Linked DNA regions of Homo sapiens: region 2 is linked to region 1. A link means that fine-mapping ties the variant in region 1 to the expression of a gene that starts in the linked region. Tissue or cell type: prefrontal cortex. Region 1 holds a variant in brackets; the other region holds the start of a gene. All regions are shown on one strand. Distances are from middle to middle.

Region 1 (8,107 bases):
TAATGAATTCCCTTAGCATTTGCTTGTCTGAAAAATATCTTATTTCTTCTTCACTTATGAAGCTTAGTGTGGCTGGATGTGAAATTCTTGGTTGTAAATTCTCTTCTTTAAGAATGCTTAATATAGGCCCCCAATCTCTTCCAGCTTTTAGGGTTTCTGCCACCAGGTTTGCTGTTAACCTGATGGGATTCCCTTTGTAGATGACCTATCTCTTCTCCCTGGCTGCCTTTAACATTTTTTCTTTTATTTTGACCTTGGAGAATCTAAGAACTGTGTGGTTGGGGGATGGTCTTCTTCTTTTGTAGTATTTTGCAGGGGTTCTCTGCATTTCCTGAATTTGAATGTTGGCCTCTCTAGCCAGGTTGGACAAATTTTCATGGATGATATGAAAATATGAAATACATTTTGCAAGTTGCTTGGTTTCTTTCCCTCTCAGGGATGCCAATGAGTCATAGATTTGGTCTTTTTATATACTTCCATATTTTTTGGAGGTTTTGTTTATTCTTCTTTATTCTTTTTTCTTTATTTTTGTCTGACTGAGTTATTTTGGAGAGCCAGTCTTTGAGCTCTGAGGTTCTTTCCTCAGCTTGGTTAATTCTGTTATTAATACTACTGCATTATGAAATTCTTGTAGTGTGTTTTTCAGCTCTATCAGATCAGTTTGCTTCTTATAATGGCCATTTTGTCTATCAGCTTCTGTATCGTTTTATTGTAATACTTAGATTCCTTGGACTGGGTTTTAACTTTCTCCTGAATGTCGATATTTTTGTTCCTATCCATGTTCTGATTTCTATTCCTGTTATCTCAACCATTTCAGACTAGTTAAGAATTATTGTTGGGGAACTAGTGCAGTCATTTGAGGTAAGAAGACATTCTGGCTTTTTGAGTTGTCAGAGTTCTTGCACTGGTTCTTATGTTTGTGGGCTGTGTTGTTCCTTCAGTCTTTGAAGTTGCTATCCTTTGGATTTTTTTTTTTAATCCTCTTTGATGTCCTTGGGGGTTTGATTCTGGTATAAGGGGGAGTCAGTTGACTGGCTTCATTTCTGGAAGATTTTAGGGGCCAGAACTCAGCTCATGACTCTTGGACTGTGTGCTCCAAATCTGGGGGGCTGGTATTGGCCCTGGCTTTGTTCTCTGGCCTCTTAAGGTTAGGAACCTGCCACACTGGAGGAGCTAAGGTGTTCCCAGGCTGCTGGTCACAACACACTGATGGATGGTGCCAGCCAAAACGCTTTTTTGGGTGGTGGCAATGGGATTCATGCTTGTTTTTATGTGCCAGCAGCAGTGGCAGCGTGGCAGGGTACACGCCGTGGTGGGGTGCCGGCAGGTGCAGGGGTGCTGGCCTCCTTGTGGGCATTTGCAGTGGTGGTGGTTGCAGTGCTGCACCAGAGGATGGAGCGGCGGGAGTGGGGCCTACTGGCATCAGTGTGCATGTTCACTCTGGTGGCAGTGTCAGCATGTCATGGGGCACTCACAGGCATGGGGCTGGTTCCCTCCAGGTAGGCGTTCATGTGCAGCAGTGGCCGTGCAGGGCAGGGGGTAGGGCTGCTCGTCTCCTTGAGTGCCTTTGCATTGGCAGTAGTGACACACCATTGCAGGCAGGGTGCGCTCACATTGGCAGCAGTGGCATGGTGGGATGCATGCACACTGGTGGGGAAGCAGAGGTGAGGTCTGCCTGCACACACACATGTGAGTAAAATGATGTAGGTGTTGCTATGGATGAGTGCATGCTGGAAAAGTGGCATGAGGGAGGACGCAGTGGGGGAAGGGCATAGGCAGGCTCATGCTGGTTGGTGTGGTCTGCTGTGATGGTCAGGCATGGTCTGCCAGCACAGGAGCTATTATGTGGGCCTCTGGGAGGCACCCCGGTGGGCATCTGAGGTTGCACTGCAAGCAGGGCTGGGGCCCTGGGAGAGGCTGGTAGACAGGGGTGCACTCATGTAAAACTGGCCCTGTCTCACGGGCAAGATCGCCCTGCACTGTTCACGTCCGACAGTTCCCCTGTGGCTAATGTCTCCTAGGGGAGCAAGGTGGGCCTTGGGGGATGGACAGCCTGACCATGCCCCACTACAGATACTCCTTTACCAAACCCTCTAGGCTTTGCACCGGCTGGAATTCTGCCCACCACCTCTCTAAGCAGCTCTCCCTGCCAGCGCAAGTGTCAGTGGGGTTATGGGGTCTCCTGCTGCCAGGATTCCAGAGGTCTGTGGAGTGAGCAGGTCTCTTCTCACTTGTTCAATTCATCCCTTCCCCAGGAGCCACTGGGGGCCAGGAACAAGTCCTGGTGCACGGTAGCCCTCTTCAAGGTTCCCACCTTCCTCCTCCTTTGGCCCAGCATCTGTGTCTTCCCTCTGTCCACTCTTAATGCCTTCCCTCCAGAGATCTGCTAAGAGTGTACCTAATGTTCCAGTCTCTCGGTAGTAGATGTTCCTCCTGGCTGCTTCTAGCCAGCTATCTTGTTTTTGGGATTTGCTCTAGAGCATTTTCTTCACTCCTAAGAGAAACCCTCTATCTCATTCTCTCCTTGCCCTTAACCTCAATCCTAGGCAGCTACTAATCTACCTTTTGTCTGTATAGGTTTACCTATACTGGACATTTCATATGAAAGGAATTATATGATATATCGTCTTTTGTGACTGTTTTTTCTCTTTGCATAATGTTTTAAAGTTCATCCACATTGTAGTGGATGTATCAGTACTTCATTCTTTTTATTGCTGAATAATTTATTGTATAGATGTACCACATTTGGTTTATCCATTTATCAGTTAGTAGACTTTGGCGTTCTTTTCACTTCTTGGTGTTTATGAATTATGAACGATTGTGTATGAGCAGTTGTGTACACATTTTTGTGTGGACATTCATTTCTTTTAGGACATTCATTTCTAGGAGTGAACCTGCTGGATCATATAGTAATTCTATGTTTAACATTTCAAAGAACTGCTAAACAGTTTTCCACCAGCAATATGTGAGGGTTCCAATTTCTCTGTATCCTCCAACACTTATTATTGTCCTTCTCTTCTGTTATAGCTATCCTAGTAGATGTGAATTGGTATCTCACTGTCCTTTTGATTTGTAGTATATTTTCCTGATGACTAATGATCTTCAGTATCTTTTCATGTGCTTGTTGCCCAGTTGTGTAACTCTTGTGGATAAAATGTCATGCATGTGCTTTACCCATTTTTTAATTGGGTTGTCTTTTTATTATCAAATTGTTAAGTGTTTATATATATATAAATTTATACATAAAATGTATATATATAATATGTATATATTCTGGATACAAGTTCCTTATCAGATAGTTGATTTGCAAGTATTTTCTCCCATTCTGTAGACTGTTATCTTACTTGATTAATAGTATTGTTTATGGCATAAGATTTTTAAATTAGTCACTTCTTTTTTTCTTATGTTGCTTGTGCTTTTGATGAATTATCTAATAATAATTGTTTATCTTGAGATCATGAAGATTTATTCCTATGTGTTCTTTTAAGATTTTATAGTTTTTAGCTCTTAATTTTAGGTCTGTGATCCATTTCGAGTTAATTTTTATGTATGCTGTAAATAAGTGGTTCATCTTCATTCTTTTGAATATAGGTGTCTAGTTGTCTCAGCATCACCTGTTGAAAACACTATTCTTTCCTCATTGAATTTTCTTGGTACTCTTGTCAAAAATCAATTGACTATAAATGTGAGGGTTTATTTCTGAACTTTGAGTTCTGTTCCATTGTTCTGTATGTGTCAGTATTACAATGTCTTGATTCCTATAACTTTGTGGTAACTTTTGAAATTGGGAGGAATGAGATCTTCATCTTTGTTCTTCTTTTTCAAGAAAGTGTTTTGCTACTATGGGTTCCTTGCATTTCCATCTGAATTTTATGATTAACTTGTTAATTTCTGCCAAAGAAAAGCCAAGTGGCATTTTGATAGGGAGTGTTGTAAATTTGAGAAATATTACCATCTTACCAATCTTTTCTCTTGATCCATGAACATGTTATGTCTTTCCATTTATTTTGATCATCTGTCATTTCTTTCAATTATCTTTTTAGTTTTCATTATACAGTCCTGCACTGTAAACATTGTATAACATTTGACTATGCTGACCTACTAAAATTATAATAGCAGTGACCTGAAGCCTAGAATTTTATTGCAATCACATTGTTTCTTCCTATAATAGCTACATGGTG[CTG/C]TGTGTGTGTGTGTGTGTGTGTTTGTGTGTGTGCGCGCGCGCGCGTGCGCGTTTTCATTGTTTTTTTCTTTAGGAACTTGACTATGAGGAACCTGACTATGAGGAATCTTCATCTCTTGTAACTGATGAGAAAGGGAAAGAAGATTTGTTTGGGAGAGGCCAGCAGGACCAGCAGGCTATCCATTCTGAAGATAAGAACAAACCTTTCAGCAGAGTTCAGGTAAAGCAATAAGAGAAATTAAATTAATTGTGATTTGGACTAGGTATTGCCAGTAATGTTGTACTGATTTAGGATTGTAGATTTAGCTTTTGTTAAGTTGGACAAAGATTATAATTTCACATTTTGTTCTAGTAATTTGCTTCACTGCCATATCATTTTGATATTTCGATTATTTTGGAAAATCTAGAGTATTGCTACTAACTCACATTCTGTATTTGGTGTTTATGTTCACTTTTAGAAAGTAAAATTCAAAAATCCATTATTTGTTCTGATGGAAGAGGAAGAACAAAAGCAGTTACATTTTGAGGGCCTTCAGGATATTCTGCCAGAAGCCCAGGATTATTTTCTAGAAGCCCAAGGTGATTTGCTGGAAACCCAGGGTGATTTGACAGGAATCCAGAGTGTTAAGCCAGATACCCAGGCTGTTGAAATGAAGGTTCAGGTTACTGAGCCAGAAGGCCAGGCCATTGAGCCAGAAGGCCAGCCTATTAAGACAGAAACTCAGGGTATTATGCTGAAAGCCCAGAGTATTGAGCTAGAAGAAGGGAGTATTGTGTTGAAAACCCAGGATTTTCTACCCACAAATCAGGCTCTTCTAACGAAAAACCAGGATGTTTTACTCAAAGACCACTGTGTTCTCCCTAAAGACCAGAGTATTCTACTCAAATATCAGGACCAGGACTTCCTACCCAGAGACCAGCATGTTCTCCACAAAGACCAAGATATTCTGCCAAAATATCAGGACCAGAATTTTCTACCTAAGGACCAGAATTTTTTATCTAGAGACCAGCATGTTCTCCCCAAAGACCAAGATATTCTGCCAAAATATCAGGACCAGAATTTTCTACCTAAGGACCAGAATTTTTTGTCTAGAGACCAGCATGTTCTCCCCAAAGACCAGAATATTCTACCTAAATATCAAGGCCAGGATTTTCTACCTAAAGACCAGGACTTTTTATCTAGAGACCAGCATGTTCTCCCCAAAGACTGGAATATTCTACCCAAATGTCAGGACCAGGATTTTCTACCCAGAGACCAAGGTGTTCTTCCCAAAGACCAAAATATTCTACCCATATGTCAGGACCAGGATTTTCTACCCAGAGACCAAGGTTATCTTCCTAAAGACCAAAATATTCTACCCATATGTCAGGACCGGGATTTTCTACCCAGAGACCTGCATGTTCTCTCCAACGACCAGAATATTCTACCCAAATGTCAGGACCAAGATTTTCTACCAAAATATCAGGTAAAATAGAGCAGAAAGGAGATACAAAAAGAAGAAATAAGCTACTTAGGGTTTGAGGAGGGATTTGTAAGGACTGCAAGTATACCTTGGAGATACTGTGGGTTCAGTTCCAGGCCATTGCAATAAAGCAAATATTGGAATAAAGTAAGTCACACAAATTTCTTGGCTTCCCAGTACATATAAAAGTTATGTTTATATTGTACTGTAGTTTATTAGTGTGCAATAGCATAATGCCTAAAAAAAGTACATACCTTAATTTAAAAATACTTTATTGCTAAAAAATGCTTACGATTATCTGAGTCTTCGGCAAGCCATAATCTTTTTGCTGGTGGAGGGTCTTGGCTCAATGTTGTTATCTGCTGACTAATCAGGGTGGTGATTACTGATGTTTGGGGTGGCTGTGGAAGTTACTTAAGATGATGAAGTTTGCCACATCATTTGACTCTTCCTTTCACGAAACATTTCTCTGTAGCATGTGATAATGTTTGATAGCATTTGATCTACAGTAGAACTTCTTTCAGAATTGGAATCAATTCCCTCAAACCCTGCCACTGCTTTATCAGCTAAGTCCGTGTAATATTCTAAACCCTTTGTTGTCATTTTAACAATGTTCACAGTAGATTCCATCTCAAGAAAACACTTTCTTTGCTCATCATAAGAAGTAACTCCTTATCCATTTAAGTTTGAACATGAGATTGCAGCAATTCACTCACATCTTCAGGCTCCACTTCTAATTCTAGTTCTCTTGCTGTTTCTACCACATTACAATTACTTCCTTCACTGAAGTCTTGAATGCCTCAAAGTCCATGAGGGTTCGAATCAACTTCTTCCAAACTCCTGTTAAGGTTGATATTTTGACCTCCTCCCATGATTCATGAATGTTCTTAATGGCATCAAGATGGTGGACCCTTTCCAGAGGGTATCAACTTACTTTGCCCATATCTATCAGAGGAATTGCTGTCCGTGACAGAAATGTATTTTATAAATAACAAGACTTGAAAGTCAAAATTATTTCTTGATCCACAAACTACAGAATGGATGTTGTGTTAGCAGCCATGAAAAAACAACATTAATCTCCTTGTATATCTTCATCAGAGCTCTTGGGTGACTAGGTGCATTGTCAATGAGCAGTTTAAAAGGCATCTTTATTTTTTTTGGAACAGTTGGTCTCAACAGTAAGTGTAAAATATTCTGTAAAACATGCTGTAAACAGATGTGCTGTCATCTTGGCTTTGTTATTCCCTTCACAAAGCACAAGAAAAGTAGATTTAGTGCCATTCTTACGGGTCCTAGGACTTTTGGAATGGTAAATGTGCATTGGCTTCAACTTAAAGTCACCAGCTGCATTAGCCACTAACAAGAGAGTCAGCCTGTCCTTTGAAACTTTGAAGCCAGACATTGACTTTTTCTCTCTAGCTGTGAAACTCCTAGTCATCTTCTTCCAATATAAGGCTGTTTTGTCCAAACTGAAAATCTGTTGTCCAGTGTAGCCACCTTCATCAGTGATCTTAGCTAGATCTTCTAGATAACTTGCTGTAGCCTCTCATCAGCACTTACCGCTTCACCTTGCCCTTTGATGTTATAGAGACACCTTATTTCCTTAAACCTCATGAACCAACCTCTGCTAACTTCCAACTTTTCTTCTGTAGTTTTTTCACTTCTCTCAGCCTTCATAATATTGAAGAGAGTTAGGGCCTTGCTCTGGATCAGGCTTTGGCTTAAGGAGCTGTTGTGGCTGGTTTGATCTGTCCATACTGCTAAAACATTTTGCATATCAGCAATAAGGCTATTTTGCTTTCTTATCATGTATTCACTGGAGTAGATTTTAATTTCCTTCAAGAACTTTTCCTTTGCATTCACACAGGGCTGTTTGGTACAAGAGGCCTAGCCTTCGGACTGTCTTGGCTTTCAACAGGCCTGTTTCACTAAGCTTAATAATTTCTAGCTGTTGCTTTAAAGTGGGAGACATGTGGTTCTTTCTTTCACTTGAACACTTAGAGACCATTGTAGGGTTATTAATTGGCCTAATTTCAATATTGTTGTGTCTCAGTGAATAGGGAGGCCTAAGGAGAGGTAGGGGGGTGGCCAGGTGGTAGAACAGTGAGAACACACACAACATTTATCAGTTAGGTTTGCTGTCTTAGATGAGCGTGGTTATGGTGCCCCAAAACAATTAGGATAGTAACATCAGAGATCACTGATCATAGATCTCTATACCAGATATAATAGTAATGGAAAAGTCTGAACTATTGTGAAAATTTCCAAAATGTGACACAGAGACATTACACGAGCACATGCTGTTGGAAAAGTGACACCAGTGTATTGGCTTGACGTATGATTGCCACAAACCTTCAGTTTGTAAAAAACACAACATCTGCAAAGCATAATAAAAATAGGTATGCTGTATATTGTACCTGATTTGGAGATCCATACTTGGAAAAAATAGTTTCTTGATTGA
Region 2 (8,107 bases), 33 kb before region 1:
AAAAAGTTGTTGAGATGCTTGAAGAAGTGGTAGTTGGTTGGCCACAGGTCAGATGAATATGGTGGATGAGGCAAAACTTCATAGATCAATTTGTTCAACTTTTGAAGGGTTGGTTGTGCGACATGCAGTCGGGCATTGTAGTTGCTGTGGAGAAGAATTGGGTCCTTTCTGTTGACCACTGTCAGCTGCAGGTGTTGCACTTTTCAGTGCCTCATTGATTTGCTAAGCATACTTCTCAGATGTAATGGTTTCACTGGGATTCGGAAAGCCGTAGTGGATCAGACTGGCAGCAGACCACCAAACGGTGACCATGACCTGTTTTTGGTGCTTTGGGAAGTGCTGTGGAGCTTCTTCTGGGCCCAACCATTGAGCTGGTCATTGCCAGCTGTTGTATAAAATCTACTTTTCATAGCACATCTCAATCCAATCGAGAAATGGTTCATTGTTGTGTAGAACAAGAGAAGACAACACTTCAAAACGATATATTTTTTTTATTTTCAGTTGGCTCATGAGGCATCCACTTATCGAGCTTTTTTACCTTTCCAATTTGCTTCAAATGCTGAGTGACGATAGAATGGTCAACATTGAGTTCTTAGGCAACTTCTCATGTAGCTATAAGAGGATCAGCTTCAATGATTGCTCTCAATTGGTCATTGTCAACTTCCCATGGCCGGTCACTATGCTCATCATCTTCAAGGCTCTCAGCTCCTTTGCAAAACTTTCTTTCTTTCTTTCTTTCTTTTTAAATTGAGACGGAGTCTTGTTCTGTCACTGGAGTGCAGTGGCACAATCTCAGCTCACTGCAACCTCTGCCTCCTGGGTTCAAGCGCTTCTCCCACCTCAGCCTCCCGAGTAGCTGGGATTACAGGTGCATGCCACCATGCCCAGCTAATTTTTTTATTTTTAGTAGAGATGGGGTTTCACCATGTTGGCCTGGCTGGCCTCGAACTCCTGACTTCAAGTGATCCGGATGCCTTGGCCTCCCAAAGTGCTGGGATTATAGGTGTGAGCTGCTGCGCCTGGCCATCCTTTGCAAAACTTCTTGAACCACCACTGCACTGTACGTTCATTAGCAGTTCCTGGGCCAAATGCACTCTTGATGTTGCAAGTTGTCTCTGCTGCTTTGCAGCCCATTTTGAACTCGAATAAGAAAACTGCTTGCATTTGTTTTTTGTCTAACATAATTTCCATAGTCTAAAATAAACATAAACAGCAAGAAGTCATTAGCAAAAAAATAAAAGTGAGAAATGCCCATTAAACTGATGTATAACATAACCACATTTATTCAAGCATGTATTCCAACATCAAATGGCAAATTCCAACAATGAAAAACCACAATAACTTTTGCACTCACCTAATAGTAGCTGTTTTCTGTTCCTTGCCCCTCTGGGTGGAGGTGGGATGGGTTTCCTTCTTGCTATTCAGTTACTCAGTGCTTTTGCTAAACCACATCCTCCCTTTTTCTTAACCTCACCTCCAACTTTGAACCTCATGTCACCAGAATATACCATGCTTGGGTTTCCAAGCTATACTTACCCACCAACCTCCAAGCCTTTTCAAGATTGTTGCTTCTGGCTTTCTCCAACATCATTCTTGTTATATTTTTTGGTGATTTCAGTATCCTCATGGATCATCCAATCAATGCTCTGGTGTTTGGTTTCTATGACCTCTTCTCCAGTGATCTTGTTCTTTAACCCACCTTAGCTTTCCCTCCTTTGGTCATACCATAGACTTTGACAGCACCAATAACCACAACCTCTGCATACACTCAGCTCCAAGCAGCCTACTCTCAGACCACCTCTTATCTTAGCACATTCTTTTGAGTATCCTGTTCTAACAAACTTTAGACCACCACAGGAACCTACAACTTCTTGACTCTACCAACTTTTCATAGTCCCTTACCTCCTACTTCTCTCATTGTATAACAAATGACCCTCAAATTTAGCATCTTAATACAACAAACATTATCTCACACAGTTTCTCGTTGGGCGGTCTGGCTCAGGGTCTCTTATGAGGTTGCAGTCAATTGTTGGCTGAGTACAGTCTCTGAAGACTTGATTAGGGCTGGAGGGTCTACTTCCAAGTTCTTTCACAGGGCAGCTGGCAGAATGTTTCAGTTTCTTGCCATGTGATCCTCTTTATAGAACTGCTAATGATGTACATGGCTTCCCTCAGAACAAGAGATCTGAGAGGGAGGGAGGGAGGGAAGGAGGGAGGGAGAGAGAGTGAGCGAGCCCATGTGAGCATATCTCTTATAACCTAACCTCTGTAGTAATATACCATCCCTTCTGCCATATTCTGTTGGTCATACAGTCCAACCTAGGTACAATGTGGGAGGGGACTACACAAAGGTGTGAACACCAAGAGGTGGGGATCATTAGGGGCCATCTTGGAGGTTGGCTACAATACTATTTTACAGAGAAAACAGAGTAATCAGAAGAGAATTTCCATAAGCTCCTGCCACCACATTACCTAATTATCAGTTTACTGTGTATTCTAACTTTTCTGCTATTATTATAATTAACCATACCTCCTGCTATCTAAGGCCAATCCCTCCACTTGTTCACTAAATTCCATTTCCTCTATGAGGTTTGCACAAAGACAAAATCACCTAACATTTATCAAAATGTATCCCCATCTTTAAGTGACACATGACTGTAGATCCCTAAATTCTCCCATATCTCTCCCGCATCATTAGTTTTCTCCTGTCTATTGGTTAATTTCCATCAATAACAAATATATGCTATGATCTTAAAGAACTCTCCAATGATCCTACCTCTACGTTCAGCCACCTCTTTCGCTGTGTCCCTTCACAACAAAATTCATGGAAAGAATTGTCTAAAATTGCTGTCTCCAATTCCTTCTCCTACTCTTTCTTGCCTAGCCCATCAGGCTTTTGCTCTCCAACTACTCTAAAGACACTGCTCTTTTAAAAGTTATCAATCACTTCCACATGGTCAAATCCAATAGTCAATTTTCAGTCCTTACCTTATTTGATCTGTCAGTAGGATTTAACACAGATTGTCTGCCCTCAATGGAACATTTCTTTTTCACCTGGCTTTCAAGGTATCACACCCTCATAGTTTTCTTCCTTGGTTTACTGATTAATCCTTCTCAATCTCTTAGCATTCTCCTCCTCTTTTTCTCAGCCTCTGTAATACTGACATACCCTGGGGCTGTTTTAGGATTTATTCTTTTATCTGTCTATATTCAACCCCTTGATGACTCCATCCAGTCTCATGGCTTTAAATCTACAGGCTAACGACTCTTAGATTTATATTTGTAGCCCAGAACCCTTCTCTGAGCTCCAGACACTTTTTCTCATACTATCTTCTCGGATGTTGATTAGATAAAACTTTATCTGCCCCAAACTGAACTCCTGATCTTCCCCTTTCCAAATCTACTCCTTCCACCATCTTCACTATCTCAGTAAATAGTAATTTCATCCTGACAGCTGCTCAGGATGAAACCCCTAGTTTTCCTTGACATCTCTCCCTCACACAATCCATATCCAAACCTTCAACAGATCCTGAAAGTTTTGCCTCCCAAATAGATACAGAATCCAACCACTTATCATCATCTCCACCACTACCTCCTTGATCCAAGACATCACAATCCCTTAACTGAATTATTGCAATAGCCACCTAATTGGTCTTCTTTACAGTCTATTCTCACTACAGCATTCGGAATTATTATTTTTTTAATTTTGTCACATTATGGTGTTCCTTTGCTCCAAACCTTGCTCCAGTGGCTCCCCATCTCAACACCTATGGTGGCTTACGATGTTTGATCGGATTGCCTGCTTGACCTACTGTCTCAGCATTCTTCCACTCTCCCTCTGCTCCAGTCACACTATCCTCCTGACTTTTTCTCAACCAGGCAATGCTTCCACCTTGGGGCGTTTATACTTGCTGTTATATCTGGAACATGTTTATAAAGCCTCCGTTGAAGAGCACAGTGGCTTCTTCCATTAACTCATTTAAGTCTTTGCTGAAAAGTATCTCAGTGCAGCTTCTCTGGACGTTCTAATATTTCATCCCTCCAATCCCCACCCTGCCCACCACACTCCCTATCCGCTTTCTTTGCTTTTACTCCACATCACACACATTTACTTACTCATTGTTTATTCGCTTATTTCCCCTCACTCTATTGTGAATTCCCTGAGCAGGGATATTTGTTTCGTTCATAGCTATGTATCTCCGGTGCTTGGAACAGTACTGGTTTATAAAAAGTTAGTAGTAATGTATGTTAATCGAATGAATAAATTATCCTACAGAGATAATTGAGTGTCTCTGGATTACAGCAGAGCTTGCAGCAGAGAGGGAGACCACTCAACAGGCCGTGATGTCCAAATATAATAAGATGTATGAAACAGTACTGTAAAATTAGCTGCACAAAGGATCCGAAAAATTTGTTAGCTTAGTTTGTTTCTCCAGGAAGCCGTGCCAGGCTCGCCTCCCTCTTTCATTCTTTTCCCGTGATTCCCTCTACTGGGACTCCTGACCCTCCTAGTCGCCAGATCACAGGCCCAACGCATCCCTTTCCGGAGGGATTTAGGAAGTCTCGGCGTTGGTCCAGGAACGACAGTCCCACCGCGCCTCACATGGCGCATTACCCAGCGACTCCGCTTACCCACACGTCCCCGCCCCCTCAGCCGGACAGGAAGAGGAAATGACGATACCTCGGGCGCTCGAAACTCCACCTCTCACGCCTTCCCAGCTCCGGGAGGGGACGCGGGCTCCGGAAAGGGCGGGCATAAGGCTACGGATGGGCGGGACGGAGCAGCCCACCGCAAAGTGGCGGTCTACTTGAGGCGGTTACCTTAGTACTCCGAGTAGACTGAGTCTGTGGCGAGCTGCGGGCCGATTCCTGGCCAGTGCCATCTCAGCCGGAGCAGGCCTCGGGGCCTCAGAAGCAGGCTTTTATCTGGCCCGAGGCTCCCAGCCGTTCAGCGCGTCTTCCCATAACCTATACCGATTATTGGGACTCTCGGCTGCAGACACAGGTCCCCGCCCCTCCCTCTTTCTCCGGGTTGCAGCTGTCATTCCTCCCTTCCCGCCTCGCTGCGCCCACAGCTGAGGACAGTCTTCGTTCTCTCATTCCCATCCTTTCTCTTCCCTCTCATCGCCATTTCTTCTAGAAGGCAACTTAAAAACCTTTCTTTGCCTCTTTATTTCTTCCCATTTCTCTTCCCTTCTTTTCTTCCTTTTTCTCTAGAATCCGTGTGTTTCCACTTCATGCCAGGCTTCTGCCTCCAGGGCTTCTCTCCTTTTCACGGGCCTGTGGCTCATGTGTTAGGAGGTTGAACTTTTAATGCAGTCATTTGAAGATTTTAAGCTTTTTCTTTCTCCTAATCAGGAGTCACAGATGCTGGGAAGTATGGCCCGAAAGAAACCTCGAAATACCTCAAGGTTGCCCCTGGCTTTAAACCCCCTGAAGAGCAAGGACGTGTTGGCAGTGCTGGCTGAGAGGAACGAGGCTATAGTACCAGTTGGGGCATGGGTGGAACCTGCCTCACCAGGTAGTTCGGAAATCCCAGCATATGTGAGTGTCAGTTTGATCCAAATATGGTGGGGTTCCCCACCACCCTTTTTATTAGCCTTCTCTAATCCTGGGTGCTTAAAGATGAACAGTCCGAGGATGCTGTTTCTATTCTGCCATAAATAGTTTATGCTCTTGCATTAGGATTATAGAACAAGTATTTGCCAAAACTTGACTGCAGCTTTAGTTGGCATAATCAAATATTTATTACTCACCTACTATAATATATAGAGCATAATCTACATGGAACAGGTTATATAGATATATATCTGTATATCAGTTTACTTCAGACTCTTGATTGCTTGTTATGCCCAAGACATAAGCACTATCTACATCTTCCAGACACTGCAACTTAGTATGGATGATAGTTGGCATACTTCAAGTAACATTAATTGGTTGCTTAAGGTTTATGATAAATTTTGTAATGAGGATTCAGGCAAAATGGAGTAATAGAATAAAGGAGAAAGAGATGAACTCTGATAATCTGAGAAAGTCTAACTAGAAATTCCATGGTTTCTGATAGTCTTTCACCAAACTGTGCCCCTTAGCTATTTGTTCAAATTTAACTTGGCACTTACCACATTGTGTTATAGTAGATTGTTTATATATCTTTTCCTGATGCAGTGTGAGCTCCTTGAGCGTAGAGAACAAATGTCATTTATCATCACATTCCCACTTTTATCTTAAATACTGCCTAATCAATATAGACACTCATGAAGTATTTATGAAAGGCACAAAATGTCTTCTGTATGTGTAGACAAGGTGCTGAACATGGATGAAAAAAGGATGAGATATGTTCCCTCAGTGTACTTGATCTCAGAAGAGAAATGAGATGTGTTTAAATGTTAAAGTAATGCAATATACTATATTCATTTTATTTATGTTTGCACATATGTATGTATATTCATTGATTTATTCCTACCCTGCCTATTTCCAAAAAGGATTTTAAGAGTCTAGGTGGTATCTCTATCTAAGTTCTAAGAATATAATGCTCAATCAAGAAGCTATGACGTTGGGTTGATGTGACCCAGGAAAGTGTAATGAAGAATTTGATCGGAGAAGGGAAGGGAATGATTCTCCTATTAAGGAGAATGAGGAGAGTAAGAAGTAAGCAAGGTTCAGGATTCTAAGGGTAGATTAGATCGATTGGAGTGGAAAGCTTAGTAGGAGAATGGTTGCTGACAGGATTATGGAAAATAGGGATGGTAGAGTACCTTAGGAAATTTTGGAGAAGGGATTGACTTTGTTTAATATTTACAGGTGAATGTCATGATCAACCAGTGTTTTCTTTAGATGAATTGCTTCAAAGGTTTTGAAGGATAGGGAGTGATTGGATCCTGGGGATAAATTAGAATATAATTATAATAATTTAAGCATGGAGTATAGCATCGAAACTTTGTTAGTGGTAAGAAATAGAGAAGAACAGCCTTGAAAAAGGATGATTGAAGTGCTTGAGCCCACGAATTGTAGGCTGCAGTGAACTATGATCATACTACTGCACTCTAGCCTGGGCAATAGAGTGAGACCCCATCTCTGGAAAAAAAAAAGGAGTGGAATGAGAAGGGATGAATGCAGGAAACACCCCACAAGACTTGGTAAGATTTGGTATAAAGATATTTTGGTATTTAAGTTGTTGACACCTCTTTGTAATTGCTCAAATTACATCTGTATAATATCAGTAGTGTCAACATGCCTAAAATTTGACACCATCAAACTTTTTCTATGTTAAGAAGTATTGACTATCGTATTCACACACATTAACTCAAAATATTAAAGTCTTGGAACATGGATAAACATATCTCCTTTTCCTGATTTAAAAATTTCTGATCAGTTCCAGCCAAAGGGAGTTTGATCAAGCATCTAATAGAACTCCTTATAGCTTTAGCATATCTAGTCTGGGTATCCACCCTTATTAACGGATATAGCTCTGTCAGCTCAAAATAAATGCTGAATAGTTACTTCTAAAGCTTGGCCCTTAGATCATGTCTGTTCTAAAGGGGAACTTCTACTCATTTTTCTCCCCAAAATTTCAGGGGGCCATCAGGATTCCTAAAAATGTCATAGCTTTAGACTACCTCCCCCCAATAATTATTAATAAATTAGCATCAAAAGACACTGCTGTTCTATCATCATATATGGGATTGCATTATTTTATAATTTGTTCTGGTTACCTTTTGCTGTGTAACCAACCACCCCAGAACTTAGTGGTATAAAGCAAATAATACTATGTAACAGGAATTTGAGCAGGGTACAGTGGTAATGGCTTGTTTCTGCCCCATAGTGTCTGGGACCTCAGCTGGGGCTCAAATAACTGGACATGTCTGAGACACCTTGACTATTTTCCGGCTATTGGCTGGAGCTAGACAATAGTCAAGTTCTCCCAGTAATGTGGCACCTGCTGGGCTGTAATGTCCAAGATGGCTTTCTTATTCACATATCTGACGCTTGGCCTAGGATGACTAGAATGTCTGGGTGCTGGTTAGATATGTTTCTCTTTTCACATGGCTTCTCTGTTTGACTAACTTGGGCTTCCTCACAGCATGGTAATCTCAGGGTAGTCTGAATT

What was found. PIP is the estimated chance that this variant, and not a neighbour inherited with it, causes the effect.
Region 2: CCDC15 starts here. The variant in region 1 is fine-mapped to the expression of CCDC15 in prefrontal cortex (ROSMAP, PIP 0.95).

What each region holds. Positions count from the first base shown.
Region 1 is chr11:124,982,486-124,990,592 of GRCh38, forward strand. CCDC15 (coiled-coil domain containing 15) reads left to right here. Exons shown (of 16, transcript NM_025004.3): 7 at 4,257-4,403; 8 at 4,642-5,649. Among named protein-coding and RNA genes, the nearest start is that of CCDC15, 32 kb to the left of the region's middle. RefSeq lists an enhancer at 871-1,623. The variant CTG/C (reference allele first, on the strand shown) is at 4,182.
Region 2 is chr11:124,949,366-124,957,472 of GRCh38, forward strand. It overlaps CCDC15 (coiled-coil domain containing 15), which reads left to right and starts at 4,837. Exons shown (of 16, transcript NM_025004.3): 1 at 4,837-5,005; 2 at 5,359-5,544. The coding sequence starts at 5,368. It overlaps CCDC15-DT (CCDC15 divergent transcript), which reads right to left and starts at 4,626. Exons shown (of 3, transcript XR_948134.3): 1 at 4,117-4,626; 2 at 1,974-2,185; 3 at 1-1,194. RefSeq lists an enhancer at 4,497-5,040.